Linked DNA regions of Homo sapiens. The protein of the gene in region 3 purifies or fractionates together with the protein of the main gene of each other region. This does not show direct contact. Each region holds a gene or a part of one and is shown on either strand. Other genes may lie near its edges. The genes, in order: CWC22, UFSP2, FMR1NB and ODR4.

Region 1 (4,921 bases), on a different chromosome or scaffold from region 3:
GTGTTTCTTGGATTATCTCGGGGTAATAATCCTTCAAAGAATGGCTGCAGAGTTCTAAAAAGGAAAAAAATAAACAAAAGAGAACACATTGCTTAAAGATAAAAAGGTAAAATCCTTAGTCATTTTTCAGATTTTTCATATATTAAATTACTAAATGAAATACAACCAAGTAACTAGTTGATGTCATTTATTAGGTTAGGCTACGTGCTATCTAAATGAAATGAGTAGGGTCAAGTAATAATGTACCAAACTTGATTTCTATCATTATACAATGTAGGAGGTTTTTAAAAAACTTTTTTTACACACACACATATAGAAAGATAAATATATACACATATATACACGTGTGAATATATATAGTGTATATATATACACACACGTATATATAGTGAATATATGTACAAAAAATTTTAAAAACCTTCTCTGTTGTGTATGTACACGTACACACACATACATAGAACTGTGCCAAGTACTGGGGGAGAGGTGGAAGTCATCAACAAAAGGGAGAAATCAAGGATGAAGACCATATAATTACAATATATATGGAGTGAGACAACCAGAAAGACACTAACAATACAAGGTGGTTTTGGACATTTGGTTTTCAGCACCACACTGAGTAACTACTCAGTGGAGTCAGAAAAAACTTTCTCACAGAAAAAGGTACAATATAAGAAGAATGATTAAGAGTTTCCCAGATAGATCAATAAGACAGGAGAATGCCAGCAGTGGAAACTGAGGTAAGGAAGCATGAAAGAGCCAGATATGTTTAACAAGCTTGGCAGTGTTGGTATGGCTGGAGTGCAGCTTGCTGAAGAGAGAGAAGACGAGCCTGGTCAAGTAGACAGGGACCAAATAAGTAAGTATATGAAGCCAAGAGAAGTGGATGGAATAGTCCAGAGACAGTGTGTGGAACCCAGGAACACTGAAGAGGCAGGCTGAGGAGAAGACTGAGAGAGGAAGTGAGAAGAAAGTATGGAGCCACAGTGAGTAGGTAGTCAACTGCATAAGTGAGGCAGAGAAGTGAAGAGGCATGCAGCCTGAGAAAGACAACTGAATATGGCAGGTGGTCACTGAGAAATCTGAAAGGATGATTTCAGTAGTGTCAATGGAGTAGAAGTCAACCTAAGTGGCAATCTGAACAAACAGGAAATAAGAAAGGTGAGAGGGGATTACATAATAATCCTGAAATAAGGCTCTAGTTCTATGTAATATTTTGAACAATTATTAATAGATGAAATATATACTCAAAACTGTCCACTGATAATATTAGTTATCATTCTAAGGCTTAAAATTAGGGTAAAAAGAAAATAAAATTATAAATATCACTGGAGAATTCAAGTGAGCATACAAAAACAATTCTGTATTTTCTAAGAAAATCTAAAAAGGCATTAATTTGAACTCCACTTAAACTAAAAACCACCACTAAAAGTTGCATGTTGTCCTGTGTGACATAACATGAAATTCACAGTGATTAATGGATGAAGAAAGTCTCAGGGGGCTTAGCTCTTGTTTTTACAGTCTCGGATGGGCTTATGTCTGCTACAATGGGAGAAAACCAGAGGTCAATAAGAATAAAAAGTGCTTAATGGCAAACTTACTCATCCTTTAATCTTGCATTAAGTTTAGGAAGACCCATGTATTCACACAGTTCCTGGAAAAATATTTTGACAAAAATTCTACTGGATGATGTAGTGGTTTCTTCACTCAGTTTTATACATTCAAGAACCTGAAAATTAAAATAAAAAAAGACAAGTATATTTTAATTTATAAAAGACAGGACATAGTGACCAATATTTGTAGGTTTAAGTGTTTCTCAAAATTACTATTTATTCCCATCTTCAACCAGAGTTATCTCTGAATATCTCCCCTTATGCTGACATAAAGTTTAAAACTACTTCTCTATACTAACTTTCAAAATGTTAAGATGCGACAGAAATAGATTTCATTCTCTGTTTTGAGTAATGTGCTTTTTATAGCAGGGAAGATATCCTCTCTTGAGCATATAATGGTAAAGATTACTAGCTCCTAAACCTTACTCATCAAAATGTGGTGTATATGAAGGTTTGGGGCAAAATGCCACTTAGCACATTAGGCTACAATTTTGTTTAGCACACATAACATACGATTTAAAAAAAGACAGAAAGTATAATGGTTTATTCTGAATATTAAGACTGTGGCTTAAAAACTGAAATGCCTAAAGAAATATTTTTAGGGAAAATAAAAATAAAAGTAACCTCTAGTTTTTATGGGTTATGTGTTTGGGGGGCCCATTAGTTGGTTAATTGTTTAAAATTCTCACTTCATTTTCTCAAAGAGGGGAAAAAAGAAGTCAAAAATTATTACAATTAGTCTCCTAGGTTAGATTACGAATGCCTATTAATGTAGCTGGACATACTTGGTACTTAAAGTACTATAAAAATCTAACCAATGTTTTTAAGTTTGAGATATTGCCTCATTCTACCATTAGTAGGATGGCATTCTACAAGATAATCCTGTTCTTTCCTCCTGGATGTAATTTCTCATCCTTCTCTCTTTCTTTCTTTCAAATTCCTTTAGTAATTTTGCTTTTCTTAGAATCTAAGACTTTTTATTTTGTATCATTGCTATGGGCATATCTTACCTCTGGTCTTATACTGTAACCCTCTTGAAAGGAGGGGCCATGTATAATTCACTCTGAATACACAGCACCTCTCTCAATGACTCAGTATATAAGTGGTGGCTAACTAACACTGGTTGAAAAACAGCTGTAAAATCAATGCCAGCTTAATGAACGCCTTTCAAATTTCAATCCAGTGCACATTTCCCTATCAAGAATATATCTTTCTTTGTTCTATGACTATAGGATATCCTCTCTATAGCTTACCCAACTTCAATGTCTGCTAAAAAGAACACATCCTTCTAGAACAATCATTTTTTCTCAAACCCAACAAGAGAACCATGGAGAGTTATTCCCTCAGGAATCAAGGGAGAGTAATTCAGAGACACATTTACCACCAAAATAGTGGCATATGTGGATGTGAGTGTGCATGCACGTGTGTGTACACAGAGAAGATGAAAATCTGCAGTACTTTTCCTGAAGACACTCCTAGCCATCACTATCGAAACACTGGCATGTTTGGACTGTTAATATAATACAAAGATAGTATTTCTTGTATATTATTTACCTAGCTTTCTGATTCCTTATAACATGATGATAATCTCAAAGACAGCAGTTCTACACATTTCATTTTAAAGCACATTTCATAATAGGATAAATATGGCTAGCTTATACGAAAATCTATTTGAGAACAGGGAATTAGGAAGGAAGTATAAATATTGACCCATGTACTTACACTCCATGGAAGTGAATCAGTGTATAAAAGGTGAGCAAACATCTTAGCAACATTTCGCAACTTGTTTGTTTCCAAGCGATGGATGGTATCATACTGTTCTTTGAATATACCTTCAAAGGATTCCATGTACTCTTTCTTTAGCATGCAAAATCGCTAATAAATAAAAAATCAGTACCATTAAAAATTGAATGTTAATACAATTATGAGCATATTAAATCCTAAATTTACTGAATCAAAACTTTATTAATATGCTTTATATTTTCAAAGAGCATATATCACTAAATCCTTTTGTGCCATATGATGCTCAAAAAAGAAGTTAATATATATGGTTTCTAATTACCTGAGATTTACATGTTAAAACAAAATCATACATGTAGGTGATCACATGAGGGTAGAGCTTAAAGAAATATTTTAGATCATGCTTTAATTGTGCTGCCTGAACATGTACTTGACTTTAGACACTGCTTTGAGATTTTGAAAAGACAGCATTTACTTGTCGTCTATTGGGAAATCATTACAAATCATGGAAAATTCCAAAAAGCTCTGGAAAAGTGATATGCAAAGTTAAAGCACTGCAAAAATGAAGTAGAAAAAGAGGAAGGTGAAGAGAGTGGGAAACCTGAGGAAGGAGAGAATAATTTGCTTTTAGCAAAAGTGGTAATATGTTTTTAAATGAGACCAGACCATAAAGCAGAAATCATTAATTTACAATATTCGTTTTAAGAATTCCCTCAGTAGAGGCTGGAACTCACCCCAGCTAATAAGCCAAAAAATTTTTCGTATGTCCTCTGTTGGGCACAGCAATCAAGTATCATGTTGCAGAGTTCTTTCTATTTGGGAAAAAAAATACATTAATGATTCAAAACACAAAGAGACTAAATATTGTATAATTTACCAGTATGATAGTGACTGCCTGCATTTTTAAATAAGGGTTTAAAACAGTTCAAAAATTTTGTAAATAAAATAAAAACCTCAATCTATGTTAAACTCATCATTTTTTACAGGCTTGGGTCTGGCTGACAGCTTCCACAGTCATTTATGCTAATTACATTAATTATAAAATTCTAAATTCATGATAAGTATGAACCACATCAAGAAAATCTAGTATAGGAAACAGACATATGAGGGAGAGATTTAATACACTGCATTCTTAAAGGATTCTATGCAGAATTCTTTTAAATATAGACTCACCAACACAACATCTAACAATTCAGTTACATATGTCCCAAGGATATGAATTCAATTGCTAAGGAATATATTTAGCATGGAAAAGGCAGATCATTATTAGTCTTTACAGAGGCATAAGTAGGTACAACTTCAACGTTAACATAAAGTTAACGTTGATAAAGAAACATCAAAAAACACCTCTGTGGATGAATTTTCTCACCTCAAAATAAATGTTATTCATATAGACCTATCTATATGGATCTATACAAATAAATGGAATCATTCCATAACTGCTAGTATATTATTCCAATTAGCTATTCAGGCGCCATGTAAACCTCTCTGAAAATTCTGTTAAACTAATGGATAAATGCCCAGTCAAGAAATACTATCATCACAGATGATTTCTACTTAACAAATTAGTT
Region 2 (4,921 bases), on a different chromosome or scaffold from region 3:
CTGACCTCGTGATCGACCCACCTTGGCCTCCCAAAGTGCTGGGATTACAGGCGTGAGCCACTGTGCCCAGTCTTTTTTTTTGAGACAGAGTCTTGCTCTGCTACCCAGGCTGGAGTACAGTGGGCAATCCCGGCTCACTGCAACCTCCACCTCACAGCTCAAGCGATTCTCCTGTTTCAGCATCCCAAGTAGTTGGGATTACAGGTGTGTGCCACCACACCCAGCTAAATTTTGTATTTTTAGTAGAGACAGTGTTTTGCCATGTTGGCCAGGCTGGTCTCGAACTCTTGGCCTCAAGTGATCCGCCCGCCTCAGCCTCCCAAAGTGCTGGATTACAGGCATGAGCCACTGTGCCTGGCTAGAAAATGTATTTTAAAACATAAGCTCATACAATCAGGAGTCAGGCGTGAGCTACTGGGCCCGGCCTACTCATTAAGTTCTTTCTGATATTTTGCTGACATCAGCCTACCTCCATTTCTTTTTTTTTTTTTTTTCTTTTGAGACAGTGTCTCACTTTTGTAACCCAGGCTGGAGAGCAGTGGATCTCTTGGCTCACTGCAGCCTCCTGGGCTCAAGCAATCCTCCCACCTCAGTCTCCTGAATAGCTGGCACTATAGGCTCACACTACCATGCCAGCTAATTTGTGTGTTTTTTTTTTTTTGGTAGAGACGCGGTCTGGCCCATGCTGGTCTTGAATTCCTGGATGCAAGCTATCCTCCTGCCTCAGCCTCCCGAAGTGCTAGGATTACAGGTGTGAGCCACTATGCCCAGCTTCTACCTCCATTTCTTACACACTAGTCTCACCTTGCCTTCTGTCATCACAGGACAGGTCTTGTTCTTCAAAGAATTAAGCATCTTTAGATCAGCTAATCCAATCTTCTTATTTTACAAATAAAATCCACAGAGGTAAGTAATTGCAAAATCTCACAAAGCCAGCCCAGTTATGACAGAGTCATGACTTACGAAGCTCAGCTGAGTGACCGTTTCCTCTTTTTAATACTGTTCTCAGCTCTTTAAATGTTTGAACATAGCTACCATTTCTCAGCCTTTACTTCTTCTGGTTATTATAATCTTTTTTGTAACCTTTAAGCCACCTTAGAAATTTTTTTCAATATCCAGAGATCCATACATATGGTGTAAAAGTTAATTTCAAAATTTTTTAAATGACTGATTTTATGCAACATTAAATATTTATATCAATGATAAGTTTTGCATATTACTCACTCTACCAAAAACAGTGTCTGAAACAGCTTACCGATCATAACTGGAGTTCCTTCACTTTGGAAATGATTAGCCAGTTCCCGTCCTTGAGAGGCAATTTCTGAACCTTGGCTAGAAAGAAACCATTTTCTATCAGATGAACTACTTCCAACACTACGGTCAAATAATGAGCTAGGAGACAATGTTTCCTACTTTCTTGTTTTTTCGGGTGTTACTGAAAAAATATATAAATGTAAAAAAATTAAGTGTTAGGGAACTGAGAGCAATTAAACTGTGCAATTTAAAGCAACATAAACTCAAAATACTTAAGGCCACCAAGTGTGCTAGATAAGACGCTAAAAGACCTTGATTTTCTGCTTCTTGAACTGTATAAAGGAGGCCTGGGTTTTTAACATGAAGTTAAAACATCACCTTGGTGCTCAGGGAGTTCTTATGGATGGATTAATCAGAAGAATGAGTGTTAAGTCCTGGGTTCTTGCCTTCTTGCTGGTAGACTTCTTAGTCTGTATTTCCTCATCTTTAAATTGGGACCCAAAACGCTGACCTGTCTACATAACAGAGGAGAGTCTAGGCCTAAAATACATGTCTGTGAAATCAATGTGAAAACTGCAAAATGTTTTCAAGTGCAACATACTATTTTTAGGGAATCTCAGAATTTTTACTTTTGAAAAGAGAAAGATAGATGGGATAATGAAGGGAGGTATTTTTTGGGGGAAGGTGCCCGGTGGTGCTAAACCTTAGCTCTTGCTTAATGAGGAACGTATGTTTTAATGTACCAAAACTGTAACTTTTAAAAAAAGTTCTTCACTACTTAAGTCTGTCATTGTTTTATATTATTATTATTTTTTGAGATGGAGGCTCGCTCTGTTGCCCAGGCTGGAGTGGAGTGGCGCGATCTCAGCTCACTGCAACCTCCGCCTCTCAGGTTCAAGCGATTCTCCTTCCTCAGCCTCCTGAGTAGCTGGGATTACAGACGTGTGCCACCATGCCCGGCTCATTTTTATATTTTTAGTAGAGACAGGGTTTCACCATGTTGGCCAGGCTGGTGTCAAACTGCCAACCTCAGGTGATCCACCCACCTTGGCCTCCCAAAGTGCTGGGATTACAGGCGTGAGCCACTGTGCCCAGCCAGTCTGTCATTTTTTTACCACTGATTTCCATAACCACTGAGGAAAGGATAAAATTACATCTTTAACACATAAAAGATACAATGAGGACGATGTTACTGTAATTAACAATAGAAAATGTATTTTATTTGTTTTTTGGCTTTTCTTTTTTTTTTTTTTTTTTTTTAGAAAATGTATTTTTCTGTTTTTTTTTTTTGAAAGGGAGTCTCGCTTTGTTGCCTGTGCTGGAGTGCAGTGGCATGATCTTGGCTCACTGCAACCTCCACCTCCTGGGTTCAAGCGATTCTCCTGCCTCAGCCTCCCAAGTAGCTGGGATTACAGGCATGCGCCACCATACCCAGCTAATTTTTTTTGTATTTTTAGTAGAGACAGGGTTTTGCTCTGCTGGCCAGGCTGGTCTCAAACTCCTGACCTCAGGGGATCCACCCACCTCGGCCTCCCAAAGTGCTACGATTACAGGCGTGAGCCACTGCACCTGGCTAGAAAATGTATTTTAAAACATAAGCTCATACAATCAGGAGTCAGCTAGTTATGGTCATAGAAAATAATTAATTTATATTTTCTCATTTTAATATTAGAATTATGGTTAAGATCATTGGAAAAGACAAAATGAATACATTATTTGAACACATTACTAGATTATTAACGTTTTAGAAAGAAAAAGAGCAGGAGGTAAACAAAAAGGTCAGTCATAGTTCAACATTTGAGTTTTGCCTTTTAAGACTTTTTAAAAGATTGGAGCATAAAGAAACTGTTAATATAATTTTTATGACTTTACTCAACGTTAATATATTTTTAAGTTTTCCTCTTCTAGGCTAAAATTAGGCCTAAATAATACAAGTATACATTACATCACAAAGTTTATTCATAAAATCAGAGCCTTCCAAAAAAAAATGAAAAAAAATTAAGATTAAAAAATGAGATTTATAAAGCAATGAGTAATAAGGAAGAAGGAAAAGGAATAAAAAGAAATAAGGGAAGATACCATTTTTTCTATTATTTTAATTAAAATGACAGACTGTCACTTTGAAATGATTTATCTAATTTCTTAAAGTGTGCTTACCTGACAAACAGGATTTTTGACGTTATACCGATCAATTGGTTTAGTACCAGCTGCACCTCAATAGATCCAATCCATTGCCGCGATCCGACAAATGTTGCTGGTTTGTCCCCGGCATCGACTAGAGCCTTGATGTATTTAAAAATATAAAACATCCATACACAAGACAGCTATTAAAAACGATGTTTAGGGCATTTTCCCTGATTACCAGTACAAGAATTTTTTTTTCTTCAAAACAGAAATAAGTCTGCACCATGAGGTAACAAAAATTATCAATGGTATATTAAGGGCTAATGAAACATACAGTTGATTATAATTTAAAACGGTATGTTCTGTACCTGCTGAATTTCTCTGTGTGTTGGAATGGACCTCTCTGTGTATCCCTGATGTTTGAACCAAGAGCAGATAGTCTGCAGAGATCGATAAGCACAGCCCCAGCCATTGTCATCTATGCGATCCTGCATATAATGATGATAGCCATATATGCCCTGGACCACATAAATCTATATACAGAGAAGAAACACAGTAAAATATTAACTTAGGATAGAAGTACATATTCTATATATGCTCCCGAATTATGTTTAATGTTCTTAGAGTTAGACTGTTACTTTAGTTCCTTATAAAAATGCCTTCACAGATCTATGGTTTAACATTATACCTTCTTGGCTTTTTATTTGAGGTTCAAAGTCCTTACCACAGGGCCCAGCAGGACCTACCTTCTGGCCTCCTCTCCAATTTCATCTCCTAAACTTTTCCCTATTGCTCCCTCTACTTTCGGTTCCCATATACCAGGGGCAATATGACCTTGGAGCCTCATGGTTCTCTTGGCCTGGAACTCTCTTTTCCCAAATTAATTGTACAGCTTGCACTCTTACTTCACTCAGGTTTCCATTTAGATGTCAAAGGTCTTCCTTGACCATCCAGTCTACAAACGGCCCACTCATTCTCTCACTACCCCACCCCCTGCCTCACCTGTCATCTCTGTCCTCTTTATGTTTTTATTTTTCAAAGTATATCATGACTTGATATACTTTAAATGATACATTACTTATCATTTAAAAAATATCTGCCTACTTACACTAATATGTGAGCTCAGTGAGTACATACACTGTGTCTTATCCATTTTTGGGCCCAAGCTTCTACAACACGCCTGGCACACGGTTAATATAAATGCTGCTGAATAAATGCTGAATGAATGAAGGAAGGAATAAAGGAATGAACAAACAAATGAAGGGTCCATATCATGGGACACAGGAAGAATGTGTCTAAATTTATAAACCTGCTATGATTACAGCCCAAGTATGTTATTTGATGACGCTAAGTTAAGGGTCAAAAAATAAAGATAAATAAATTACTAATATCATATAAATTCTTACTTATAGTGCTAAGAATGTATATGTCTTTTTTTATTAAAGAACTGGGTTTTTGTTTTTATTTTTTTGAGATTGGGTCACACTATGTTGCTCAGGTTGGTCTTGAACTTCTAGGCTCAAGTGATCCTCCTGCCTCAGCC
Region 3 (4,921 bases):
CCCATCACAGAAAGTCTTGGAAAATATGTTGGCTTACATATATATTGACAAAAATCAAGGCCTTACATACAGTAAAACCTTCCTTATCCTTCTTTCTCACTATTTTAAAGAACTGGTTTTTAGTCTTATTTACACAATTCCCTCCTACATGAGAGAAGAGGATAACACAGATTTGTCCATAGCATTAAATATTTCCCAAAACTATCTTTAATAATGTCACAGAATTCCATTATATGGCTCTATTATAACTCAGTTAGCAATTTCTCCATAGGAAAACATTTAGGCTGTTTACAATTTATTGATGTTATAAAGAACACTGCAATGATTATCATTACATTATCGTTAGCTTGCAATGATTATCACTGAAGCTTTATATTTATATATTTGCAAATATTCATGAAAAATTACTTAAGATAAATTCTTAAGGCATGGTGGCTCTTGAGTATGTCCAAATTACCCTCCAGCAGGGCAACCCTAAAATACACTTCTACCAGTAGTACAGGCAAGTGCCAGTTTTCTGACACCTCTCCATTTTTTATTATTTGCCAATTTGATGGCCAAAATAAAACAAAATATCTTTTGTTTTAATTTGCAACTTTCATAATCAGTGAGCTTACATATTTCATATTGTGTTGCATAGTAGAGAACTTAACTCTTAATCTGCCACATATTTAAAATATTTTTTTCAAGGTAATTGGTTATCCTTACTTTTTTATGGTGTTTGGGAAGCTCAGAAGCTTAAAATGTTATATGTAATTAAATCTATCAATCTCTTCCTTTATTATTTTTACCTCTATAAAGGCATTCTATACTCTAATACTCCCAACATTTTCATGGTTGTACTTTTTAAATTTAAATATTTAATACACCTGGAGTATATTTTGGAGTGTGTTGTGGAGTAGGGATACGATTTTTCCAGCAGTCATAAGGCCCTTTATTAAATCCATCCTTTTCTGTTATACTTAAGATAACATCATCACATTCTAAATCCTTACTATATCCTTATAGTCATAGATCTGCTTCTTGACTTTCTATTCTGTTCCACCAACCTATCTATTCATGTGCCAATACTAATGTTATTGTTTATTTTATCTTTTCTTTTATTTTTTTTTTGAGACAGAGTATCGCTCTGTTGCCCAGGCTGGAGTGCAATGGCGCAATCTCAGCTCACTGCAACCTCCGCCTTCCTGGTTCAAGTGATTCTTGTGCCTTGGCCTCCCGAGTAGCTGAGATTACAGGCATGCACCATCACGCTCAACTAATTTTTGTATTTTTAGTAGAGACGGGGTTTCACCATGTTTCCCAGGCTGGTATCGTGATCCACCTGTCTAGGCCTCCGTAAGCCACTGCACCCGGCCTATCTTATGTCATTATGTTTTAATAACTGATCTGGTAATCCTTTCATTGTCTCTACTATCAAATTTTATTTTCAGCTCTGAGAATTTTTTAGATGAACCTTAAAATCGTTTTGTCAAGTCAAAAAAAATTCTAAATTTTATGGTAATTATGTTCACTTATTTATCATTCATTCAAAAATCATTTATTGTGTGTCCCACGTGCTAGGCATGAATTCAATTAAATGTAGACTCATTTGGAGAGAATTGATAATGTTACAAAATTTTTTCACCTAAGTAGTTTTGTTTCTCTGTTCATTCAAGTCTCTTTTTATGTCCCTGAATAAGGTTTATCATTGTATTCAGATAGGCCCTGCACTTTTCTTAGTACATTTATTCCCAGGCATCATATATATTTTGTTGTTTTGTGAACATAATCCATTTCACCACATTTTCTAGTGGATTGATGGTATGTAAGAGAGCTATTGATTTTTATACATATATTTTCTTCCTCCCTTAGTTAACTCTCGTTAGTTCTCATTGTTCTTCAGTTTCATTCCAGATAGACAATAATATTATCACTAAATATAGATGACTTTGTCTCCTTTCTTTACAATATTAACACCTGAATTATTTTTCTTCTTTCACTGTATTGCCTAGAAATGTTTAAACTATGTTGATTAATAACCATAATAATGGGCGTTCTTGAGTCATTCCTGACTTTAATGGGAATGTGCTAATATTTCATAATGAAGTATAATGTTGGCTGCTGGTGTAAGATAGATACCCTTTATTAAATTAAGGATGTATTTCTCTAGTTTTAGTTTTCTACAAATTTTCTGTTGTTATTTTGTTTCATTTTGAATCAGGGATAGAACTGGGATTCTATCAAATCCTTTTAATATTTACTGCCATGATGATATTTCCCCCTGCCTATTAATTATTGAATGTTATTAATATATTTGCCAATATTAAAATATTCTTGCATTCTTGAACAAAGTCCACAAGTGCTAATGTTTTATATAGGATTCATGATTCAACATTCCTAAGTGAAGTGTGTCTGCAGTTTTCTTTTGTGTGCTACATCTGTAAATTTTGGCATAAGAGTTATACCTGTTTCATTCATAAAATAACCTAGGAAGCTTCCTGTTGCTTTTCTAGACTAAAACAGATGAAACAATATAGGAATGATTTGATCCATTAAAGGTTTGGGAAAACTCATCCAGAAAAAGTCTGAGTCTTCATTTTTTGGAGAGGGGTAGTTCTTTATCTTTTGCTTCTTCATGGTCACAGTTAATTTTGTTATTTTTATTTTGCTAGGAAATCATCTATTTACAAAGCAATTATTAGCATGGAATCATAAGACTATTCACTTGTAATATTTAAATCTCCTTTATATCAATGATAATATCTTCTTTCTCATTTTAATGAGAGCAACTTCCATACACATACATTTGAATGTGTACTCTCACAATGAACTCTATTATAAATGTTAAATCAAGCTAAATTATATTATGCAAATGCTCTGTATCTTTATTTTTCTGTCAAGGACTAAAAGATAAATATTAAAGTATCTCACCATGATTGTGGTTTTGACGATTTCTACTTAAATTTCTAAAACTATTTGTTTCATATATTCCAATAGTGCATATTCAATCATGACAATTTTATCTTCACTATATATTACACCTTGACAATATTAAACATAATCCATTTTGTCCTGCTTGTTTTCTACTAATGCTTACTCATTATTGAACACCCACTATATTCTGTGTTTTGAGGATATATCAGTGAACAAGTCAGACAAGATCCCTGCCCTCATGGAGCTTACTACAATGCAGTGGAGAAGACAGACCACTAACAAATTAAGTAATTACAAATTGTAATGAGTGCTATGAAGAAAAGTGGATACTGATACAGAATAAAGGAGGGGGGCTACTTTAAATGGGAGCCAGTCTCTCTGAGGAGATGATATTTAAGTGGAAAAAAAAAAAAGACTAGAAGTAGCTGGCTGAACAAAGGGCCTGGGAGAGTGCTTCCAGCACAAGGACAAGAAATGAGATTAATGTTGCTAGGCACATTTTGCCAGATCAGAGAACCCTCTGTCCTACATGACATGAGAAGGGAGCTACAGATGGAAGGGACCTTGACAAGACTTTAGTTCCATATTGCTGTTTGTTTGCTCAGTGTTCCCCTTCGTCAATTTGCTGTCCTTGTTGCCACTCGATTCAGCACACCATCTGAAGTAAGTGTTGGCTGACAGTAGCACACTGAGGCCCAAGTCTCCATCCTAAGTTATATTCAGCAAGTTATGTGCTCTCTGGAATTCCTCTAGAATATTGATCCCCCAACTTAGAGTCCCCAACTCAGAGTGCCCTAGCCTCCAGACCCTGCTGGACAGGCTTGCCCTTGGCTTGACATGAAACACAAGTTGCTGTGATTTCTCTCCATCATGTTTTTATCTTTCAGAGAACCCTCCAAGTTTCTGGCATATAGATGCCAGATGGAAACTTTCTAGGTTCTCCAGGTTTTCACCCTTTATAGATCTTTCGGTCATTACAATGGGCATTGAAATGAAAGCGACAATTAAACATCTTAACTAAGATGAGCAACATCAGTGGCAGTCTCAACCATAAGTCTAGAATATATTTTACCCTGCCCTCCACCTTTGGTTTCTTCCGTACTCTGAAAGAAAATTATTTTTAAATTAATTTGAGCAGTATGTCTCAAAGTGTAGTCTATCACTAGTAGTACATAAGAATTTTAGGTGGAACATAGATGAATATTTATGGATATATTAATGTTTGCTATGAGTTTATTTGAAAGTGTAAAAGAAAAAAATGAGTAACATATCAAACCTACCATGACACCAAACACGGCTGACATCACTTGCCATAGGGCAAATCTTTATAAACTTTGTCTTTTTTGATACTTTGAGTTCTGGGATACATGTGCAGAATGTGCAGGTTTGTTACATAGGTATACATGGGCCATGGTGGTTTGCTGCACCCATCAACCCGTCATCTACATTAGGTATTTCTCCTAATGCTCTCCCTCCTCTAGCCCCCCACCCCCTGACAGGCCCTGGTGTGTGATGTTCCTCTCCCTGTGTCCATATGTTCTCATTGTTCAACTCCCACTTATGTGTGAGAACATGCGGTGTTTAGTTTTCTGTCCCTGTGTTAGTTTGCTGAGAATGATGGTTTCAAGCCTCATCCATGTCCCTGCAAAGGACATGAACTCATTCTTTTTTATGGCTGCATAGTATTCCATGATGTATATGTGCCATATTTTCTTTATCCAGTCTATCATTGATGGGCATTTGGGTTGGTTCCAAGTCTTTGCTATTGTAAATAGTGCTGCAATAAACATACGTGTGCATGTGTCTTTATACTAGAATGATTTATAATCCTTTGGGTATATACCCAGTAATGGGATTGCTAGGTCAAATGGTATTTCTGGTTCTAGATACTTGAGGAATTGCCACACTGTCTTCCACAATGGTTGAACTAATTTATACTCCCATCAACAGTGTAAAAGCGTTCCTGTTTCTCCACATCCTCTCCATCATCTGTTGTTTCCACACA
Region 4 (4,921 bases), on a different chromosome or scaffold from region 3:
CAAAACTCTCAATCCAATTGTTGCATGTAAGATTCAAATTCATGTTCCAGCAAAATTATAAATTATTAGTAAATGGAACTTTAGGGTTGTGAATTACGAGAAGGATAAATGTTAAATCTGCCAATCATAGAATCCAGCATACTAGGAATATAAAAAAAAGATTATAATTAGTCCATCAAACTTAACATACTAGCTATCAGTAGTACTAAAAGAAGTTGGTTATATAGAGGAGCTATGCTTTTTTTCCTATGAACATAAAAATATTCCCTTCAAAAGCTAATGTGGGCTGGGCATGGTGGCTCATGCCTATAATCCCAGCACTTTGGGAGGCCGAGGTGGGTGGATCATCTGAGGTCAGGAGTTCGAGCCCAGCCTGGCCAACATGGTGAAACCCTGTCTCTACTAAAAATACAAAAATTAGCCAGGCGTGGTGGTGGGCACCTGTAATCTCAGCTACTCGGGAGGCTGAGGCAGGAGAATTGCTGGAACCCGAAGCTAATATGAATGTTTCAATTATGTACATATCTAAATGTGAATTGCAAATCCACTAACATCAGAATAATAAGAATGGGGAGGCCGGGCGCGGTGGCTCATGCCTGTAATCCCAGCACTTTGGGAGGCCGAGACGGGCGGATCACGAGGTCAGGAGATCGAGACCATCCTGGCTAACACGGTGAAACCCCGTCTCTACTAAAAATACAAAAATTAGCCGGGCATGGTGGCGCGTGCCTGTAGTCCCAGCTACACAGGAGGCTGAGGCAGGAGAATGGCGTGAACCCGGGAGGCGGAGCTTGCAGTGAGTCGAGATCGCGCCACTGCACTCCAGCCTGGGCGACAGAGCGAAACTCCGTCTCAAAAAAAAAAAAAAAAAAAGAAAAAAAAAAAGAATGGGGAGATGATGATGTAGCTTTAAAAAGTGTACTCAATATTTTAACTTGCTTTTGATTAAAAAAATTTTTTAATACAGATTACTGCGATGGTATAAATTGTTATGTTTCCCAAAAGCTGCAATCGTTATTAATGGGTAAGATACTGTAACTCAGCCTTTTTTAAACGTAATGAAGTCTGTTAGAGTAATAGCTGAGAAGCATATAAACTAGTGTAGTTTATATAAATAGTACCTACTAAAGGAGCTATTATATAGTATTTAACACTAATAATATTTTGATTATGGCTAAATTATTTAAAATACTCATAGATATCAACAAAAAATACTAACTTTAAAATGTTAACAAAGTTTACTCATTCTGGCAGGAGAAGTTCACTTGGAATTAATTTTTTTAAAAATCCTCCCTGAAATTCTTAATTGTTGACAAATTTGCTAAATTTGATAGTGTTCTAAAACGTTTTTCTAGAGCCAAGCATGGTGGCTCACACCTGTAATCCCAGCACTTCGGGAAGCCAAAGACAGTGGATCACTTGAGTTCAGGAGTTTGAAACTAGCCTGGGCAACATGGCAAAACCCTGTCTCTAAAAAAACAATACCAAAAATTAGCAAGGCATCATGGCATGTGCCTGCAGGCCCACCTACTAGGGAGGCTGAGGTAGGAGGACTGCTTGAGCCCAAGAGGCTGAGGCTGCAGGTGAGCCATGACTGTGCCACTGCACCCCAGCCTGGGCAACACAGTGAGACTCTGTCTAAAAAAAAAAAAAAAAATCTGAGTAGCAACTGAAAAATTTTCATCCAATAATAAAAGATGATATACTGCTTGAAAATATAGATAGGTAGCTATAAAAGATGACGTATCTGCTATATCTTGATATCTTATTACTATATCAGTTGAAGATACGCAAAAAAGTACTTATTTTATACTCATAACTTTTTTTTCTGGAATTTCATTCAAAAGCAGATCCTCAAATAGCATTTCACAACGATCAGCAACTGTGTTCAATATATCCCTCTTTACTGCCTACAGGGAAAAACACACAAAAAACACAGTAAGAAATAAAATACTTTAGATTTACAATATTTAACTAACAAAAAAAATAATTTGCTTTCCAGTACAATCATGCCCACTAAATAACTGATACATCATTCAATGTTTTATTTCCACTTATTTAGCACACTTATTAACAAATTTATAGTTTAATGATAAATTTATCTAAATAGTTAAAAACAGATAAATGAATAAAATTTCACATCTAAAAAAATAATTGCAGTGTTCCAAATTAGATACTAATATGTATAACAGTGGAACACTTACTAAACTTGTATAGCCATCATTTTTAAAAAGGCACAAAATAGATACTCTACATATGAAAATCTTCACACCAATTATATGGTACATTTGGACTGCACAATAGGCCATTATCAGTTAAAATCGAATTAATAATTACAAAATATAAGATTAAAAAATGGTAAAATTTTAGGTTTTTGTTAATAGTTAACATGGTTCCATATGCTCGTTATTCCTTTTTGTACCTGCACAGCATCTTTAACTTTGGGTTTACTGCTGTGGATATAAGCTCTGCATTTCACAGCACCCTTAAGGTTTACAGAACCGCTACATATCTGGACTGTGGCTGTGGATCTGTGGTCTGAATTCAGGAGCTGAAAGACAAAATCTGTTTAAGTTCTAATAACCAACAATGATTAACTACAGGAAATATTTAAACATTATATTAGCGATTTTATGAAGAGAGAACAAAGTTTTGACTGAGCCAAGCATTTGAAATTATTCTCTGCAAATTATTTAAAGGCCTTCATATTTGTTTTTATAAGTTATATATTATTTTCCAGTCATTTTGAAGATATAATGAAATTAAACACAACTACATCTAAATTTTTCTAACATAACCATCTAAAATGGTTCAATATTCACTCGATATGCTCCTAAAAATATATTATTTGCAAATTATTCACATCAGTACTGTGATGATTAAAAGATATACAAAGAAGATATGATGTACTAGATATAAGTTGTGCAATGCAAAATAAGTTCACAATAACAAATACAAAGTGGGATGTGATAACTATGGTAAAACTACAAGCAATGCACAGACACATATATTTACACACTTTCAACCAAAAACTTTCATAGACTAGTCCCATCCTCTTTAGTCTAAGGAATGCCAGTGCTCTTGTTCGGTTTTCAGGTGTTTCACATATATTTTCAACCCCATCATCTTAATAAGTGCCAAAAACAAGGACAGTATCAAAATAGTTAAAGTACTACAGGTTGAGCATCCCTAATCTAAAAATCCTGAATGCTCCAAAATCCAAAACTTATTGAGCACCAATGTGATGTTCAAAGGAAAAGGTAATTGGAGCATATAAGATTTTAGATTTTTGGCTTAGAGATGCTCAACTGGTATGTATTCTGCAAATATTACAAAATCTAAAAAAAATCCCAAACCCAAAACACTTCTGGTCCTAAGCATTTCAAATAAGGCACACTCAACCTGTAATAGAGGCCTATAATAACAGTGGAAACAAAAAATAATGATTTACAAAAAATAACCAAAAAATGGAAATGGTAAGGAAGTAATTTATGTTCTAAGAACACTTGGAGTATAAGTCATTCAACAACCAAATCAATTCTGAAGAACAAAAGTCAAATCATACAACTTGTGAAAAGTGCTTTGTGCCTATGTGCTTATGCAATCAGGAATAAATGCGGAAAAATAATGAAGAGGAGAATACTGACATGCATAGCTATTGAAAGAGCATTATTGATGTCTAGTGTAATTCAAGCAATGTCTAAGGCAATGTAAATCTTCTAGGTGTTGTTAAACAATTTAAACTTTAAGATGGTCAAGGACTTGTTGACAAAAAATTTGCCACAGACCACACAGCTCCAAAGGTCCTGGGTCCATTCAAAAATGGCTATCATCAAACCAAGCAGCAGTGTGACGATGCTGATACAATGTCTGGAATAAGCTTCCATATGACACATGTAGAGTTCATTGATACATCAATAAGGTGGGGTTGGAGGAGGAGTAACAGGCTTCCCCTATCTACTCCATAACTTTTTATTGTAGACAAAACTACTCTAAAAAGAATGTCCTATTTTACATATTTAACATATAATTTATATATTTTTAACATATAACACATTTATATATTAGTATATGTAAATATATGTGTATGTGTGTATATACATATATCTATCTATCTATCTATCTATCTATCTATCTATCTATAATTATGGCATTGTTATCCAAAACAGACTAGACTATTAAAGACTATACACACACATATTAAAGAAAAGAGGTATTTTTTTGGTTGGTTGGTTAGTTTTATTTTGTTTTGTTTGAGGCAGGGTCTTGTTCTGTCATCCAGCCTAGAGTACAGTGATGCTATCAGAGCTCACTGCAGCCTCAAGCTCCTAGGCTCAATCGATCCTCCCACCTTCGCCTCCCAAGTAGCTGGGACTACAGGCACACACCATCACCCCCAGCTAATTTTTGTATTTTTTTGTAGAGACAGGGTTTCACTTGTTGCTCAGACTCATCTTGAACTCCTAGGCTCAAGCGATCACCCTGCCTAGGCCTCCCAAAGTGCTGGGATTACAGGCATGAGCTACCATGCTCAGCCAGGAAAAGTTTTAAAGAATGTAAGGTCTGACTCATTCCTTTTAGGTGGAAATGTAGACCAGTTGGGGTCTACAAATGTAAACTCCTCTTGGTTATTTGGACTTAGGAATAACCTGGCTGCCAAACAGCCTATAGGTGAGGGAACTTCTATGATGCTGACATGGCATTTGAAAAAGAGAAGATCCCCATTTCTATGGGAACCAAATGAAATCTTACACAAGTAGTGGCATTTGGGCTAGATCTTAATGTACAGATAGGATTTTGACAGTTTGGGTGACAGAGAAAAGAGCAAAGACATGATACATAGTTCAGGAAATACAGAGCTTTAAAGGTATGGCAAGCATACATCTAGAAAATAAGAGGTAGAAAATAAGAACAAAAAGGT

The links.
Region 1: the proteins of FMR1NB (region 3) and CWC22 purify together in Homo sapiens (affinity purification with mass spectrometry; 3 studies listed by BioGRID and IntAct, with this or other methods). This does not show direct contact.
Region 2: the proteins of FMR1NB (region 3) and UFSP2 purify together in Homo sapiens (affinity purification with mass spectrometry; one large-scale study listed by BioGRID and IntAct). This does not show direct contact.
Region 4: the proteins of FMR1NB (region 3) and ODR4 purify together in Homo sapiens (affinity purification with mass spectrometry; one large-scale study listed by BioGRID and IntAct). This does not show direct contact.

Annotation. Positions count from the first base shown.
Region 1 is NC_000002.12:179,950,873-179,955,793, forward strand, and holds part of CWC22 (pre-mRNA-splicing factor CWC22 homolog), read right to left. Parts: intron 4,163-4,921; coding exon 4,085-4,162; intron 3,486-4,084; coding exon 3,333-3,485; intron 1,727-3,332; coding exon 1,599-1,726; intron 55-1,598; coding exon 1-54. UniProt on the Homo sapiens protein: Required for pre-mRNA splicing as component of the spliceosome. As a component of the minor spliceosome, involved in the splicing of U12-type introns in pre-mRNAs. Promotes exon-junction complex (EJC) assembly.
Region 2 is NC_000004.12:185,404,525-185,409,445, forward strand, and holds part of UFSP2 (ufm1-specific protease 2), read right to left. Parts: exon of another isoform or gene 3,912-4,921; coding exon 3,747-3,911; intron 3,537-3,746; coding exon 3,412-3,536; intron 1,436-3,411; exon of another isoform or gene 1,333-1,435; coding exon 1,256-1,332; intron 1-1,255. UniProt on the Homo sapiens protein: Thiol-dependent isopeptidase that specifically cleaves UFM1, a ubiquitin-like modifier protein, from conjugated proteins, such as CD274/PD-L1, CYB5R3, DDRGK1, MRE11, RPL26/uL24, TRIP4 and RPL26/uL24.
Region 3 is NC_000023.11:147,997,942-148,002,862, reverse strand, and holds part of FMR1NB (FMR1 neighbor protein), read right to left. Parts: intron 1-4,921.
Region 4 is NC_000001.11:186,395,943-186,400,863, reverse strand, and holds part of ODR4 (protein odr-4 homolog), read right to left. Parts: intron 2,566-4,921; coding exon of another isoform or gene 2,552-2,565; coding exon 2,423-2,551; intron 1,911-2,422; coding exon 1,820-1,910; intron 1-1,819. UniProt on the Homo sapiens protein: May play a role in the trafficking of a subset of G-protein coupled receptors.